2 separate regions of the Homo sapiens genome follow, and region 2 is linked to region 1. Evidence: fine-mapped expression QTL. Tissue or cell type: prefrontal cortex. Region 1 holds a variant in brackets; the other region holds the start of a gene. All regions are shown on one strand. Distances are from middle to middle.

Region 1 (8,080 bases):
TGATCAAGAACTTCTTCTGAGGACAGACAGGTGCTGTCTCTAGCATCACCTCTCAGCACGATTTTCCCGAGAGTTCACAGGTGGGGCAGGTGGTTGTTCTGACTCAACCAGAGCTTCCAGAGGGCTCTTTGATCCCTTTCTCAGTTAAACACAGAGCAGCATCTTCAGGGGTATGGCAGCTGTCCTCAAAGTTAGAAGCTGGATGCTAAATTAGGCAGTCTGTTCACTTTCCATCTGGTACCCACTCCACTAAGTCCCAAGGCGCCTGTGCTGGGGTCGGCAGTGGCAGCCTGTAGTCCCCTTCTGCTCTCCCTTCCCAGGGGGTCCTGAAGAAGCCCTGGGGCAAGGGCTCAGGGATGAGGGGGCAGAAAGGCAGATTGAGCCCCTCCAAGCTGAGCACACTGGTGCAGGAGATGTAGACGTGGGAGGAGGGGAGCACGTTTGCTCGTGAGAGTGGCTCTGGCTTGCTGCCCTGGCCGGCTGTAGTGCACAGGGTGGGGCGTCGGTAGAGCCAGACCGTGGGCTGCTGCCTGGACGCCTCGCTGACATCCCTGTGCTGCGGTTACAGAGCTGCGCCCTTCTAGACTCTGGAAGTTGAGTAACAGGACCTGCTCTGCCCACCCAGGAGGGGCCTGCCGCTTCACCAGAGGCACCAGTGGGGTCCCACAGTCACCTGAGGTACCCCTGGACTGTCTTGACGCCTAGAGGTCCGGGCAGGGGGTGGCTGCCATTAAAGGTGGGGTCTTTGCTGAGTGACCTTTTGTGTCCTGGATCCCTCAGGGCCTGGACTGCACTCCGGGTGGGGTCAGGCTCCCGAGGCCCCTGCTCTCTGGTTCTGGATGTTGTGGGTAGTTCTGTTGCTTTGGATGGCTGGGCCTTTGGATGGTGGCTTGTGGGGAAGGGACGGTGAGGAGTCAAAGATGAGCCAGGACCCATGTGGCCGGCACATGCGCTAGTGCCGGCATCTCATGTGTGCAGCGTGGGCTCCCTTAGTGCCTGGCACCTTAGTGCTCTGCTAAGTCTCATTGTTTAAAAATGTGTAGTTTATCTGCAGCTTTTCCTAGTTATTTTAATTACTTTTCATTTTATTTGAATAGTGTGTGCAAATGTAGAGAGTAAAACAATACTGCGGCCATTTCCTGCCCTCCCTTCCCCCAGGCAGCCACTCTTGGCTTGTTTCTTCTGATGTGCACACGTGTCCGTATTTCTAAATAACGTGCATATCCTGCTGTCTTCCCCCAAAATGTGTACTTAACCAAAACAGCACCAGTGTCACTCCTGAAACAAAAATTACCAAGAATGTCTTAGTATCATCAAATACCTAAATGGTGTTCACAATTCCACTTGCCTTAAAATTAATTTTTTCGATTATTTGACTTGAAGTCCAATTAAGGACTACACCTTGTGATTGTTTTTTCCCTAGCAATTTATTTTTTGAAGAATGAACTTTATTTTTATTGGATCTACTTAAAACATTTTTGTGTCACCTAGTAGCAGGGGATTTTGAATACATGTCATGTGTGTTTATAAAGCCAGCTCTCCATATCCCCCAGTGTCTCCAGGAGCTGCTTTTGTGACCTCACTGCCTGATCTCTTTATCATCTTCAGGTGCTTGACCCTTGCACAGAGAGAAGCTTCCTGGGCTACAGGGCATGGCAGCCTGTCCTTTCGGGGAGTGAGATTAGATTTAGTCCCTGCACTTTGCCTCTCTAGAAGCAGCTTCTCGCCTTTCCCTCCCGAGGGCTGGCAGGAGTCACTGTCACCCTTCATGGGGTCTGAAAGGTTGCATAGGCTCACCTGGTCTTAGACAAGGACAGTTGCAGCTTCCGCACCAGGCAGACCTGCAGTTTGAGTGGCTGGGGATAGGTGGAGCGGCGGCCTGGCCACAGTGCCCTGGACAGCAGCACATCACATCAGTTAACACTGTTTGCCTTCCAACTAGTTATTACGGTGTCCTGTGGGACAATTAGACTGGAGGAGCCAAAGGAATGTGCAGGGGCACTGGGTTTCTGTTTGGAGAGAGGCTCTCGGTAAACAGAGTTCGCATTCCTCCAGATTCTGTGGGACCAGAGTAAATATCATTATGCCACAGCCAGGCTTAAGCAATCTATCTGCAGTGCCGTTCCCGCAGCGCACACTGCTCCCTCTGTCTCTGCTGATGACCTTCGAGGCTGTCCTAGGCAGGTTCTCCCTGAGGAGCTCCCCACACCAAGCCTCCCTAACTCTGCAAAGCAGCCGGAGCAACAGAGAGCAGCGGGCGGCGGGCGGCGGCCGCCGCAGTCCTCCCGGCTTTCTAGGTGCGCGGGGCTGTCGTGTTCCAGTCCCTGTGTTCCCCGTCGCTGGAGTGCAGCTTAAGTGCGAATCATTTCTTGGAAAGTTTAGAGATAATTTTGTCAACTACCCACAATATGTATGTGTGGACTAGATTACTTTCTTATTTCAGGATCTAAAGGCAAAATGGAAAAACGTCACATTTTGTGGTTATTACCAGGGACTGAAGTGAGTTGCCCGGTGGCCCCTGGTGGCTTTAGCTCCCCTGGTCACCTGAAGGGCTGCAGTGACCCCTCCTGGCCAGCAGAGGTATTGGCCCAGCCAGGCTGGGGGAGGCTGAAACTGCTTCCCTTCTCTGCAGCCACAAAGGGCTGGATTCCTTGGGCGCCAGGAGGGGAGGATTTTTCTTTTCCCTCCGATAGCCCTACTGGGCGCTAAGATTGTTGTGAATCATTACCCTCAGAATTTGGACTTTCTAGATGCTTCTTAACCCATGATTTAGGTGAGTAAACTTGGAAAAATGTTTTTGCAAAACTTGATGATCAAGCTGAACGTAGAACGATATTCCTAATGGGTGTGTTTGCCTTTTTTCCCCCTTTTGAGACAGGGTCTCACTCTGTCACCCAGGCTGGAGTGAGTGGCATGATCATGCCTCGCTGCGTACTTGACCTCATGGGCTCAAGCGACCCTCCTGCCTCAGCCTCCTGAGTAGCTGGGACCACAGGCACATACAACATTCCCAGCTAATTTTTTGTATTTTTGATTGATAGAGATGGTTTTGCCACGTTGCCCAGGCTGGTCTTAAACTCCTGGGCTCAAGTAAGATTGCCGTCCTGGGATTAGAGGCGTGAGCTGCTGCAGCGGCCTGCTTTTCTTTGAAGCCTGAGAAATGTTGAGGGCCGGGCACAGTGGTTGACACCTGTAATCCTGGCGCTTTGGGAGGCCGAGGTTGGTGAATCACCTGAGGTTAGAAGTTTGAGACCAGCCTGGCCAACATGGTGAAACCCCATCTCTACTAAAAATAAAAAAATTAGCTGCGTGTGGTGGTGGGTGCCTGTAACCCCAGCTACTTGGGAGGTTGAGGCAGGAGAATCGCTTGAGCCCAGGAGGTGGAGGTTGCAACGTGAGCCGAGATTGCGTCATTGCACTCCAGCCTGGGCGACAAGAGTGAAACTCTCACTCTCCCTCGAAAAAAAAAAAAAATGTTGATCCTGTCTTGGTCCCCCTGGGATCCGTCTTTTCTGACGTTTGCCGCTGTCTCCCCTCATCCCCCAGGTTGCTAGTTAATTCTCTCCCCTCGTGCCTGCACCCTGCTGCCCTAGCTAGCCTGGCCACCTCACTGCCGTGTCCTGCATCAG[C/G]CCAGCCACAGAGTCCTACAGGTCCGGGGCTTGCTTGTGGGAACGGCTTGTTCTTCTAGACTCTGGGGGCGGGGGCTTGGGTGTGTTTCCTTACTTGTAAAAGGTCCTGTTGTTTTTGGGAGCAGGGAGTAATGGCGGATGAGACGCTGTGTGGAGGCGGCAGCTCCTGGTATGGGGTAACGCCCTGTCCCCTCATTGGCAGGTGGTTTGCATGAAGCATCAGGCCAGAGGGTGTGAGTGCCAAGCCCTCACCCCACATGCTGCTCCTGTTAAAAGCAAACTCCACTGACCCCCCCGGGAAGTCAGGATTTGGGATTTACTTCCTGGAATGCTTGCCTCTGGCTGCTGGGAATTGGGGCCTTTCCCCAAAGCCTGAACCAGGCCTCACAGTGGCCATCAGGCACAGAATGGATGGGCACAGCTGAGTGGCTCCACTGGCTTTAATCTGCCCCACCTCTTCCACACCAACCTCCACCCTCTGGTTCCGATGTGCTTGGTTACAAAGCACCTGATTATTTAAGAGAACGAAAAACCACCACCAGTTCCTGTAAAGAATAAGTCACAGGTGCACAGGTGAAGGGCTGAGTTGTGGTCCAGCCCCAGGGAGTGTGGGCTGTGAGGCAGGAGCGAGCTAAACCTGTAGGAGCAGCGCCACGGCTGCCAGGATCCACTTCGCTGCCTTCTCTTTGGTCTTCAAGTTAAAGGTCCAGACATAGGTGGGGCCGCGGATGCGTGTTTTGTACACGGGACACTCATAGATGTTCTTGGTCTCCATGCGGTCCACAGGAATGGCCTTGATGAAGATGACAGGCATGGCCGGGGTCAGCTCTTTCAGCCGCGCTTCAGCGATGACTCCAGTCTGGGTGTCCCAGCGAGCCCCTGCAGGGACAGTATGGCTGAGGGTCAGGTGTGCTGCCAGTAAGTGAGGGAGGGGCTGGCAGGAAGGGTGGGGTCCTCACACTCCCCGCCCTCTGCAGAGCTGGGCTCTACCCCAAAAGGCTTCAGGCCAGCTGCCACGGCTGGAAGCAGAGGCCTTCGTAGGTGATGGCCTGCATGTTGTAACTACCCCGTCCCGCTGGGCTCAAGGAACAGCTCAGCTAAAGCCCTCGGGTTCCATCCGTTTAAATCTGTGGCATTTTCAGAGCCTCATCTGTCAGCCTTAATGTCAGTGGCAGGAAGTCATAACTCCAGCTAAAAATTACAGAGTAAAGTTCCCTGATTCTTAATGTGTAATGTCTGCCCTATGTGTACATACACAATATAATTATACATCTGTGCATATAAATATTGCCTTTAACCAGACTGCTATTATTTCTACTCGCCCTATTTAATGGTGTTTTTATTTCCTGTCTGAAATCTCAAAATAAACAAACATGGAGAGCTTATCTTTGGTTGTGTGGGAAATGGGGTGCCTGAGCCGTTGCTGGCCCAACCCTGCCACCCCACAGGTAATGGGGTGACGTCAGCTGTTGAAGGGGACAGGTATGTGGTGGTGGCATTGCTGCTCAACTCAGAGGCGGGCTGAGAAGATGGCCGGCCTCGGTGTCCTGGCTGACCTCTTCTGTGTAGCAGGACAGGGGTGATGTGGGGGCGGACTTCTAACAGGTGCCCCAGCCTCTTTTCCCTTGAACCCTGTGTTCCAGGAGTGGCAGCAGCTGGGGAGTGGGTGAGACTGGGCCAGCCAGCATGACCTGGAGTCTCAGTGCAGCCACAAAACGCACTTCTGCCCTGGGCTGACTGCTCCGTGGCAGGGAAAGCCTGGGCTTTTCAGCGCTTTTCATCACGTCGGAGCTGCTCTCTCACAAGCTCTGCTGTTTTCATTAAAGCAGAGGCCAGGTGACTGGGGTGTTTTTGGTCTCCTCCAGACCCTGCACATTCCCTGAATCCTCTCAACCCTCTCTAGGGTCAGCGTGGCTCTGACCTGCAGGCTGATGCCCCCTGAGAGCACCTCTCTCCTGCCTGTCCCCACAGCTCTTGAACAGCCTGTCTTTGCCAAGAGCTAGTTTTATCTTGTCTTGGCAAGTAGCACTGGCTCTGGAAGCTTCTGCAGACAGACAAGAGCCCTCCTTACCTTCCATGAAGAGTCCGTACACGTAGGAGCCCTCTCGCGGAGGAGCGGTCATGTCCTCTCGGTTTTTCTTGGTCACCTCGACAGACAGACACATCTTGTCCAGGGGCCACTCGTTCTTCCTGGCCATGGACTGCATGATGGCCGTGAGGAACGACTGGGGGTTGAAGAAGCCGGCCAGCCACACGGTGGTGGGCAGGGCAAAGTCTGTCGTCCAGGCCTCGAGTTCCTGCAAGGACACACGAGCCGCTAGGAGGAGAGGACATAGAATGACATGGGAACGACCGGGCCTTGGCCGTTCTGAGCAGGGGTCACGCCAGAACCTTCCACGGGCCACTCAGCGAGCTAGAAGTGCTGGACAGAGTAGGGGCCATGGAGCCCAGCCACCTACCATGACGCAACTTTGGTGTCTGCTTTTTTTTTTTTTTTTTTTTTTTTTTTGAGATGAAGTATCGCTCTGTCACCCAGGCTGGAGTGCAGTGGTGCAATCTTGGCTCAACGCAACCTCCGCCTCCCGGGTTCAAGCAATTCTCCTGCCTCAGCTTCCAGAGTAGCTGGGATTACAGGTGCAGGCCACCATGCCCAGCTTATTTTTGTATTTTTAGAGATGGGGTTTCGCCATGTTGGCCAGGCTGGTCTCGAACTCCTGGCTTCAAGTGATCTGCCTGCCTTGGTCTCCCAAAGTGCTGGGATTACAGGTGTGAACCACCGTGTCCAGCTGCTGTTTGCTCCATTTTAAACAAGGGAACAGGTAGAGAAGGGTCAGGAAGAAAATGGCTTCCTGTTTGTGGATAATTTAGGAGCCCAAAGAGGCTCTTGCCTTCATTGCCTCGCTCCTTATAGAGGACGGCTTACCCTTTGAGGGTCGCTTGAGGAGGAGCTGATGGAAGCTGCTCTGCGGCCTGGCTTGTTTTCCTCCTTTGGGAGGAAATGGCTGCACTGTCAGGGTGTGGGAGGGGCATGGGCTAGGCCCTTCTGGCCCTGATCTGACAGAGGACAGGCCCCCAGGAGCCTCCTGGCCATGCTCCTGCAGGCTCTAGGGTGTGGGGTGTGCCGAGCTCTGGGCACTCGGTCCCCGAGTCTTAGGAAGCCTCTCAGAGAAAACGGCACTTACCCTGATGCGGAGCAGCAGGTCTGCGTACCAGGCCGCCAGGCCCATCATGGAGGGGTAGGCCCGGGCCACCCACGTATCAGGCACGGTGTCATAGAAGAGAGCCGTGGACAGATCTTCCACGTCGGTCGTGATGGTCAGTTCTCCCTAGGAGACACACAGATGGGTGTGGGGAGCCCTGAGCTGGGGCCTGGGAGAGCACCAGCCCCAGTGCGTGTCATGAGTTGTCAACACAGTGTGGCTTTGTGCTGCGCCTCTGGAGACGCCCTGCATCAGGGCCACGCAAGCGCTTCCTGCTAAGGAACGGTCTAGATGAGCTCCCGGGGCTTGTTCTGGAACTGCCAGAGCTCTGGAGAGGGAGCAGTACCATGCTGATCCGGGGCCTGTGCTAGGCCTGGGTTGCCAGAGGCCTGGGTTTCTGCTGGTTTCACCATCCAGCCACGTCCCTGGGGCCGGGCTGACCCATGTTTACCTTCAGCCCCAGGTTCAGCTCCTTGAGCGAACGGCGCATTTCGTTGGTCAGGATGTTCATTCTTTCACATTCTTGAAAGGCGACTACCACGTAGGGGGTCTTTTCCGCTGCCTTTGCCATGATCTCAGCCATGTTGAAAGTCTCCGGAATCTTCTCCAGGATGTCGTCCAGCACGGCCTTCACCTGGAAGCCAGTCCCCGGACAGCCCCTGTCACTGCAAAGAGCCCACCCCACCCACTGCAGGGTCAGGGAGCCTGCCCAAAATGTTCCCAGCCCCAAGTCCTGGAGAGGAGGGAAGAGGCAAGTAGAGTTGCCAGAAATGCAGGGTCATGGGTGCAGCCACACATTTGATGAGGAGAGGGAGCCTTGGCCAGCGGCTCCGAGCATTCTGATCTCACTACAAGTCCCTGCAGCCGCGGCCATGAGCGCATCAGGCCACCTGGCTCGGTGCCTCATTTGTTCATTCCCACGCACCAGCCTCTGGTCAAATGTAGCCAGCGGTTGAGGGATTGCGACTTTGTCCTTTACGTGGGCTTTCTGTAGGGACCATGCTGGTCACACCCTGTTAAGGAGTGGCCCACACAGTGCAGTGGTCACCTGCACCACCGTCTGTCAGCCAATTCCTGATTTCAGTCATTAGACTAAGAGAAAGTCCTGGACCTAATAGGAATAAGGGTCTCACATCAAGAATTCAGTCTTTACCGGGAAGTCCTGTACTTAGCTAGTACGTAATAGAGCCTTTCCACATTCTATTAAGAAGTACAGGCCAGGTACAGTGGCTCACGCCTGTAACCCCAGCA
Region 2 (8,080 bases), 45 kb before region 1:
ATCCCCGAATGCTTGGGGAGACTGATTTGAGTAATAATAAAACTCTGGTCTCCCGCACAGTGGGCTCTGCGTGAATCACTCTTTCTCCATTGCAATGCCTCTGTCTTGATAAATCAGTTCTGTCTGGGCAGCAGGCAAGGTGAACCCATTGGGCAGTTACAGTTTCATCCCATCTCCAGCAAGCAGGCTGCATTCCTTTTAACAAAGAACAGGCTCCTCACAAACAGCTGAACAGCCCCTCGGGACAGTTTCTCATCTCTGGAGGCAGAAGGTGGGCCGGACAGCCACTTCCTCCCTTTGGAATTTGCTAACAGCCCTGTGTTTGGGAGAGACCCTCTCTAGGCAAGCAAGCTAGAGGAGGAGGGGCCTTCCTCTTGTGTTACTGTGATTTTCGGTTGAGGGAGTGAATCACAGGCAGTGAGGCATGGGCTGTTGGCTCAGGATTTCCTGGTGTTTCCTGCCTGGGAGAGCTGCCCCACTCTCAGGGGCAGCAGCCCACCACTCCTTGACGTCAACTCTCCCTCCAATGAATGGGTTTCCTTTTCCGTTTGGGAAGACATGGGATCTGCCGTCAATCCCGTCGACCCTGTCTTTCTAACCCTGGCACCTCCTGTCTGGGAAGGAGCGAGTGCGACTAACGAGAAGGCAGTGGGTGAGGGCAGGAGGGCGAGGGGGACTCAGAGGACAGATGTCTTCTCGCCCGCAGTCATTGAGATGGGCATCCAGAAACCCCATCCACAGCAGTAGTGTCTGACCCAGATTGAGAGCCGGCCACGCAGCTTTGGGACACCCTGAGTGCTCCCAGGCAGGCTCTCTGGGTCACCTTTGTTGTCTGGGAGGGTCTTATCTCCTCTACTTGTTTTCAGTAACTAGCCCAGATGAGACCTCCTGACACGAACAATGCATGTGCTGTCATCCTGTAAATGGAATCATTTAAAAATTGCACAATCTCTGAAAACCATTATTTAACATTTTTGCAACCTCAAAATGTATGTGTCCCCAGCAAAGTCGTGGTTGCCTCACTCTGGTGATAGCTCTGTCTGTTTTAAACTAGCCATGAAGGCCAGAGGCTCTCGATGTGTGGTTTCAGAAGGGACTGGGTCATTCCTTGATGTTATCCTTAGGGTAAATACTTATTAGTGTGACTTACCATGCTATCAATATTGCTGTCTGTTGCTAGCATTTCTTTAAGGTTGGGAATTCCCAGTGAGCCTGTACCATGGCTGTTTGTCTCAGTACCTCGCACAGCAAAGCACCCATGCAGAAAAGCTGCCAGCTCCTTCTAGGATGATAACCAGGCTCCCATAGCCCATGTGGCGCTCACCGCTGAGCATGACGGTGTAGCCATACAGCAAGTGTTTACTCTGCAACAACCGTGGGCCAGGAACAGTGCAAAAGTGGAACCATGCAATGGATGGCCTCATTCTAGTTACTGGAAGTTAGGAAATTTGATGATTCACCATTTCTAACTTGGAAGGGTTGAATCAAATTCCATGTAGTATTAGTAAAGCTATCTAAACGCAAAAGAAAACTTTAAGCCAATCTGAAATACTTGTTGATTGTCAACAATTTGGAAACTCCTTAATGGCACCAAATAACCAACATTAACATTTGGGGGTATTTACTTTCAGTCTTTCTGTGTACATACACGCATTTCCTCTTTCTTCCTCTCCTTTAATGAAATGAGATGGTCTCTACGCTACTCCTTGGTAATTTGGCTTTTACACTTAATGTCATTAAATATTCTTCCAGAACATGTTATTTTTATGATTGTGTGGTCTTCCAACATACCGATGTATCATTATTTAACCAACCCCCCTACCCTGAAGATTTGCTTCCACACTTCCGATATCATGAACAAGGCTGAGATGAACATTCTTGTGGGAATGTGTAGTTGATTTCCCTGCATAATCTGTGGAAGTGGACTTTGGAGTGTTTTTTTCAGTGTGTCCATATCTTTTTTTTTTGAGACTGAGTTTCGCTCTTGTTGCCCAGGCTGGAGTGCAATGGCGCGATCTCGACTCACTGCAACCTCCGCCTCCCGGGTTCAAGCGATTCTCCTGCCTCAGCCTTCCTGAGTAGCTAGGATTACAGGCATGTGCCACCATGCCCGTCTAATTTTGTATTTTTAGTAGAGACAGGGTTTCTCCATGTTGGTGAGGCTGGTCTCGAACTCCCGACCTCAGATGATCCGCCCGCCTCGGCCTCCCAAAGTGCTGGGATTACAGGTGTGAGCCACTGCGCCCGGCCCACGTGTCCATATCATTTTAACCTCACAACACGGCAGACTATGATTATGTCCTACAGCTTTTCCAGTTTCCAGGTCCCAGCCTATGTGGGTCAGCCAGGGAGCTGCATATTACAGATCAGAGATCACCTCTCCTGCCTTTCAGAATGCCACAAAGTTTTCCATTTTAAAATTAGCTGCAAAAAGTGTTCTTGGGCCGGGCGCGGTGGCTCACGCCTGTAATCCCAGCACTTTGGAAGGCCGAGTTGGGTGGATCACTTGAGGTCAGGAGTTTGAGACCAGCCTGGCCAACACGGTGAAACCCTGTCTCTACTAAAAATACAAAAATTAGCCAGGCGTGGTGGCGCACGCCTGTAATCCCAGCTATTCCGGAGGCTGAGACAGGAAAATCTCTTGATCCCAGGAGGCAGAGGTTGCAGTGAGCCAAGATTGCGCCATTGCACTCCAGCCTGGGTGACAAGAGTGAAACCCTGCCTCAAAAAAAAAAAAAAAAAAAAAGTGTTCTTGGTGTATGAGGATGTGCTCCGTCAGCTTTTTGGGCATAGAACTGTGTGTTGCCAGGGGCCAGTGATATCTGTGTACTTGGGCATATCAGGAGGGTGGAAGACTGTTCATCTCACACAGATTTGCTTAGGCTGTTCTGTGCCATGGAGCTGCAGCCTCTGGGGCTAACAGGGTGAAAAATGATTCCTCTCTCAGTCTGGTGGGGATTTTCCGTGGTTCTGTGCACCTTAGTGAGTCAGCGTTAACCAGGTTACAAGACTTTGTACAAGAACAGACTTTGTTCAAGTTTAACACCTTAGGGGTGTTGTACAAGTCTAAAGAACACCCTATCAATTAGAGCCTCAAACAGTAATTCCCTCACTTATCAGTGAGAAGTCCTTTTTTTTTTTTTTTTTTTTTTTTTTTGACGGAGTTTTGCTCTTGTTGCCCAGGCTGGAGTACAGTGGTTCGATCTTGGCTCACTGCAACCTCCACCTCCTGGGTTCAAGCGATTATCCTGCCTCAGCCTCCTGAGTAGTTTGGGATTACAGGCATGGGCCACTGCGCCCAGCTAATTTTTTGCATTTTTAGTAGAGACGGGGTTTCATCAGGTTGGCCAGGCTGGTCTCGAACTCCTGACTTCAGGTGATCCACCCGCCTCTGCCTCCCAGAGTGCAGGGATTACAGGCGTGAGCCACTGCGCCGGCCGAGGAGTCAATCTTGACAGCCAGTGGTCAGGCTCGGTGGCTCATGTCTGTAATGGCAACACTTTGGGAGGCTGAGGCTGGATGATCTCTTGAGCCCAGGAGCTCGAGACCGGCCTGGGCAACGTAGTGAGACCCCCATCTCGACAAAAAAGTAAAGAATTAGCCGGGCATGGTGGCACACGCACTTTGGTGGTCCCAGCACTTTGGGAGTGGTCCCAGCACTTTGAGAGGATCCCCTGAGGCCGGGAGGTCGAGGCTGCAATGCGCCAAGATCGCGCCACTGCACTCCAGCCTGGGACACAGACCGAGACTCTGTCTCAAAACAAACAAACAAAAGCTTTTTTGACAGCTGGTGAGTTGGAGCCAAGCGTGACGGTGCTAGAGCCCCTGCGCCGCATCCTTTCCTCCGCGACCTGTGACGAGTGACTGCAGGAATGCAGGCCACCTGGCGCCCTTACGGATTTAACGGGCCGGCTTCCGACCCCCTCCTGCGGCGCGACCACTGTTCCTCGCCTGTGTCCCCCAGAGGGGAAACTGAGGCTTGGGGGCGGTGCAGCGCCGCCCTCCCCGAGCCAGGGGTTCCGCGCCTGCGCGCCTGAGCCGTGTCCGCGCTCGCCTTTGTCAATAAAGTTCGCGCCCGCCGGGAGCGGAAGCGGAAGCGGCGAGTCTCCATGGCGGTGGCGGCGGCAGCTGCGGCGGGACCCGTGTTCTGGAGGCGACTGCTGGGCCTCCTGCCTGGCCGCCCAGGGCTGGCCGCGCTCCTGGGACGCCTGTCCGACCGCCTCGGCAGGAACCGGGACCGCCAGCGCAGGAGGTGAGAGGGGCGGCCGGGATGAGAGTGCAGCCCTCGCGGCTGCAGCCCGGCCCCCCGGCGCTCAAACTCCCGGCCCCAGCGTCCTGGGCATCCGCAGCGAGTCCCTCCCCGGTTTCCGGGCCCATTTCTGCCTCCCGGGGCTCGGCGCCTGACCTATGTGCTTCTTCACTGGCCTTCTTGAGGGAGGGTGGGCGGCTCGTGCTCCATTATCGGCCGGGTCCAGCCGGCGGGCCTCCTGCGCAGCCCGGCCAGTCCTTGCTCCCCGTCTACACCGTGCTTGTTGGCGAGCCCCGGCCACCGTGCACTTACACGTTAAAAGAGGGACTGTGTGTGCGTTCAGGGAGCTTCGGTCAAGCTCCAGAGGCTGTTTATATCATGGTTTCGGCCCCAGGATGTGAGTGTCGGAGAGTTCAGAGGGGTCTTTTCCTTAGGTAAGCCTGGCTGTGAGTGAATCACCGTTGCTGGGATTTTGTGTATAGAGCGTTTCTCACATCCTGCCAGAAAAAGCTGTGAAGCAATCCTTAGTAACACTCAGGCATGGGAAGAGGAGCCACTCGAAACACTTTTTACACATTTCAAAGGGCCTGTGTTCTGGAAAAGTACTGAAGTTATGTAAATGATGAAGTAGGCTTTGGAGCAATTTGTTCAGGCAGTGGTCTTTTAAAATAAACATTTGCCAAGAACATGCTGACCTGAGGCTTGCTAATATTAAAAAAAAGGGGATAAATAATTCTTGGCCGGGTGTGGTGGCTCACGCCTGTAATTCCAGCACTTTGGGAGGCCGAGGCAGGTGGATCACCTGAGGTCAGGAGTTTAAGACCAGCCTGACCAACATGGTGAAACCGTCTCTACTAAAAATACAAAATTAGCTGGGCATGGTGGTGCATGGCTGTAATCCCAGCTACTTGGGAGGCTGACCCTGAGGCAGGAGAATCGCTTGAACCCAGGAGGTGGAGTTTGCAGTGAGCCAAGATTGCCTCATTGCACTCCAGCCTAGGCAACAAGAGCAAAACTCTGTTTCAAAAAAAAAAAATTCTCTTGTGTGCAAATAGTTTTCTTTTCTTTTCTTTTTTTTTTGAGACGGAGTTTCACTCGTTGCCCAGACTGGAGTGCAATGGCGCAATCTTGGCTCACCTCAATCTCCACCTTCCAGGTTCAAGCGATTCTCCTGCCTCAGCCTCCCGAGTAGCTGGGATTACAGACATAAGCCACCACACCCGGCTAATTTTGTATTTTTAGTAGAGACAGGGTTTTTCCATGTTGGTCAGGCTGGTCTCTAACTCCCAGCCTCAGTTGATCCACCTGCCTCGGCCTCCCAAAGTGCTGGGATTACAGGCGTGAGCCACCGTGCCCGGCTGCAAATAGGTTTCTTAATTGAGTCTTACACTTGATCTTTAAAAAAAAAAATCTTAGAACTGCTTCCTTTAGTTGAGGTTGCATTGTGTTAGATTTTCTATCTGTACGTGTACTCCTCGGGTGAGATTTGACCTCCTGGGGTCAGACATCTAGTACAGAGATCTGGGGTCCAGTCATGTGTACTGATTCTAGGTACAGAAAAGAGCTTGCTTCATGGTGATCTATGGTGGAAGATTTTCATCGAAAACTCAAGTTTGATTTAGGGGAATTTTTAGGTGATAGAATCAGGGCAGGATGGCGCTCTTGGAAACCTGCTAGGTTTCACGTTGGTGAACCCAGCAGGACTGGGGCTGTAAAAGAAATGGCCTCTGCATTTTTTGCATTTTCATTTTTTCAGTGTTTAACAAAAGACCTGCTCATCTCTGGGTGACGAAGTCAGATGACTTCTACGTCCTGGCATCAAACCACTGAGATTTGGTTTACAGTTTCAAAAAAATGTTCTACCCTTGAAGACAAGATTTAGGTGACTTTGTCATTTCCCTCTATATGTTTAAACTATATGAAAAACACTTCATTATAAATCATTGTTCAACATTGGAATTGATTACTAAAGGATGTTGGGGCAGTTGACACAAATATTTTAAAAAAGAAATCTCTCATGAGTGTGCTTTTTTTCTTTTTCTTTTTCTTTTTTTTTTTGAGACAGAGTCTTGTTCTGTCACTCAGGCTGGAGTGCAGTGGTCTGATCTCGGCTCAGTGCAACCTCTACCTCGTGGGTTCAAGTGATTCTCCTGCCTCAGCCTCCAGAGTAGCTGGGTCTACAGACACATGCCACCACGTCCGGCTAATTTTTGTATCTTTAGTAGAGACAGGGTTTCACCATGTTGGCCAGGCTGGCCTCGATCTCCTGACCTTGTAACCTGCCCACCTCGGCCTCCCACAGTGCTGGGATTACAGGTGTGAGCCACTGCGCCCAGCCACTTTTTTGTTTTTTGGTGGTGGGAGGGGCAGTGTGGCAGTGGAGATAGTCTAAATTGACTTTCTAATCTCTTTTTTTTGTAAATTGTGTGAGTGGATGCAGTTTGTGTGCCTTCATCCTTCATTAAGCTGAGAGAGATGATTGTTTCTCTGGGACAACAGTTCAACCAGCAACTCAGTTTCTTGGGCATTAAGACAGAAGTTTTTGCTTTGTAATCCTCGGAAATAATGCCTATGGTAGGACTGAGGATAAATGCTTTGACCGGTATTGAGTGGTAGTGTAGGTTTCTGAGCCTTTCTTTGCCTTATTCGGTTTGCAGTTCTTTTCTGATTCGTTGTGGCCTTGGTGTTCGAGTTATTCATGTTTGTTGTGGCTGCTTACCCTTTATTAGCTGCTGACTTTGCTTTCTTCTCCATTATTCAGTTGCACCTCCCAATTTCTCATTCCCCGAATGATGTGGTTTCTTGTAACTCGCTGATCATTGATTCATTGATAATAGTTCTGTGCAGTCATGAGCTTGAATTATTTTAGGTTTTAGCTTGTCGATCTGAGTCAGCTGTTGGAGGGCCAGTGAACCCTCGTGAGGGGACGTTCCTTTTACTGCCGCGGTTTCCTTTCAGGCATAGAGACAGCCAGAGAGACAGAGAACTCTACTTAAAATTACTTCTGTTAATGATTTAGAAGCACTGTCATTTCCTCTTAAGCTAGCATCTGACTCATTATCATTAGGAACTGCTGGATCCGTTAATTTATTCATCATGTGTGTATTGAGCACTGCTGTGCTGTGCTAGGTACTCAGGAAGCAAAGATAAAGACACAGCCCCACCTCCAAGACGCTCAGACCCATAAACAATTACAAGAAGTAGGTAGAAGGTCATGGCAGTACCTTGGAGAGGTCATGGAAGGCTTCCTGGTGCAGTGGCTCAGAGCTGTTTTGAAGGAGGGGTCGGAGTAGTTAGGCTCGGTGAAGAAGAGGGGGAGTGGATGTTCAAGAAGTGATAGTGACATGGACTGCAGCGAAAGGCAATTCTGAGGTCCCACCAATACTGAAACCATTTCCAGGAGCTGACTAGGGGTACCGAGTAGGGGATGGAGGGAGGGAAGAAGAGGAGCTAGGAGCAAGCCAGTCTGGGCCAGAGACCCAGGAAGACAAGTTCTGAGATTCCATGTATGATTTCTTTTGATTCTGGTTCAGCCTGAGATGGTGGGGGCTTTTATATGAAGTCGGGGCAGTGGGAGCAGAAAAGAGGGCTGAGTGAGAATCAGTCTTGATGGGGCACATGGATGTTGGTACATTTCACGAAAACGGAGTAAAGAAGAGGCTCAGGTTTTGGGGATGATGGTAAAGTGCATTTGGGTTATGTTAATCAGTATCCAGGTTCCTCTAGGTGATGTGTTCAGTGTCCAGTTGACTGTGGCAGAACTGGAGCTCAGGAGAGGGAGACAGATGCTTCAGATAGGGTTTTTTTGAGTCATCCGGCTACACAGAATGG

Evidence for each region. PIP is the estimated chance that this variant, and not a neighbour inherited with it, causes the effect.
Region 2: PGS1 starts here. The variant in region 1 is fine-mapped to the expression of PGS1 in prefrontal cortex (ROSMAP, PIP 0.95).

Annotation. Positions count from the first base shown.
Region 1 is chr17:78,419,646-78,427,725 of GRCh38, forward strand. PGS1 (phosphatidylglycerophosphate synthase 1) reads left to right here. Exons shown (of 10, transcript NM_024419.5): 9 at 1-30; 10 at 4,416-5,014. The coding sequence ends at 20. DNAH17 (dynein axonemal heavy chain 17) reads right to left here. Exons shown (of 81, transcript NM_173628.4): 78 at 7,281-7,463; 79 at 6,812-6,955; 80 at 5,701-5,926; 81 at 4,052-4,508. The coding sequence ends at 4,261. Among named protein-coding and RNA genes, the nearest start is that of PGS1, 45 kb to the left of the region's middle. RefSeq lists enhancers at 1-631, 2,905-3,484, 6,278-6,778, 6,779-7,279. The variant C/G (reference allele first, on the strand shown) is at 3,630.
Region 2 is chr17:78,374,557-78,382,636 of GRCh38, forward strand. It overlaps PGS1 (phosphatidylglycerophosphate synthase 1), which reads left to right and starts at 4,093. Exons shown (of 10, transcript NM_024419.5): 1 at 4,093-4,252. The coding sequence starts at 4,110. RefSeq lists an enhancer at 3,982-4,943 and a silencer at 4,139-4,378.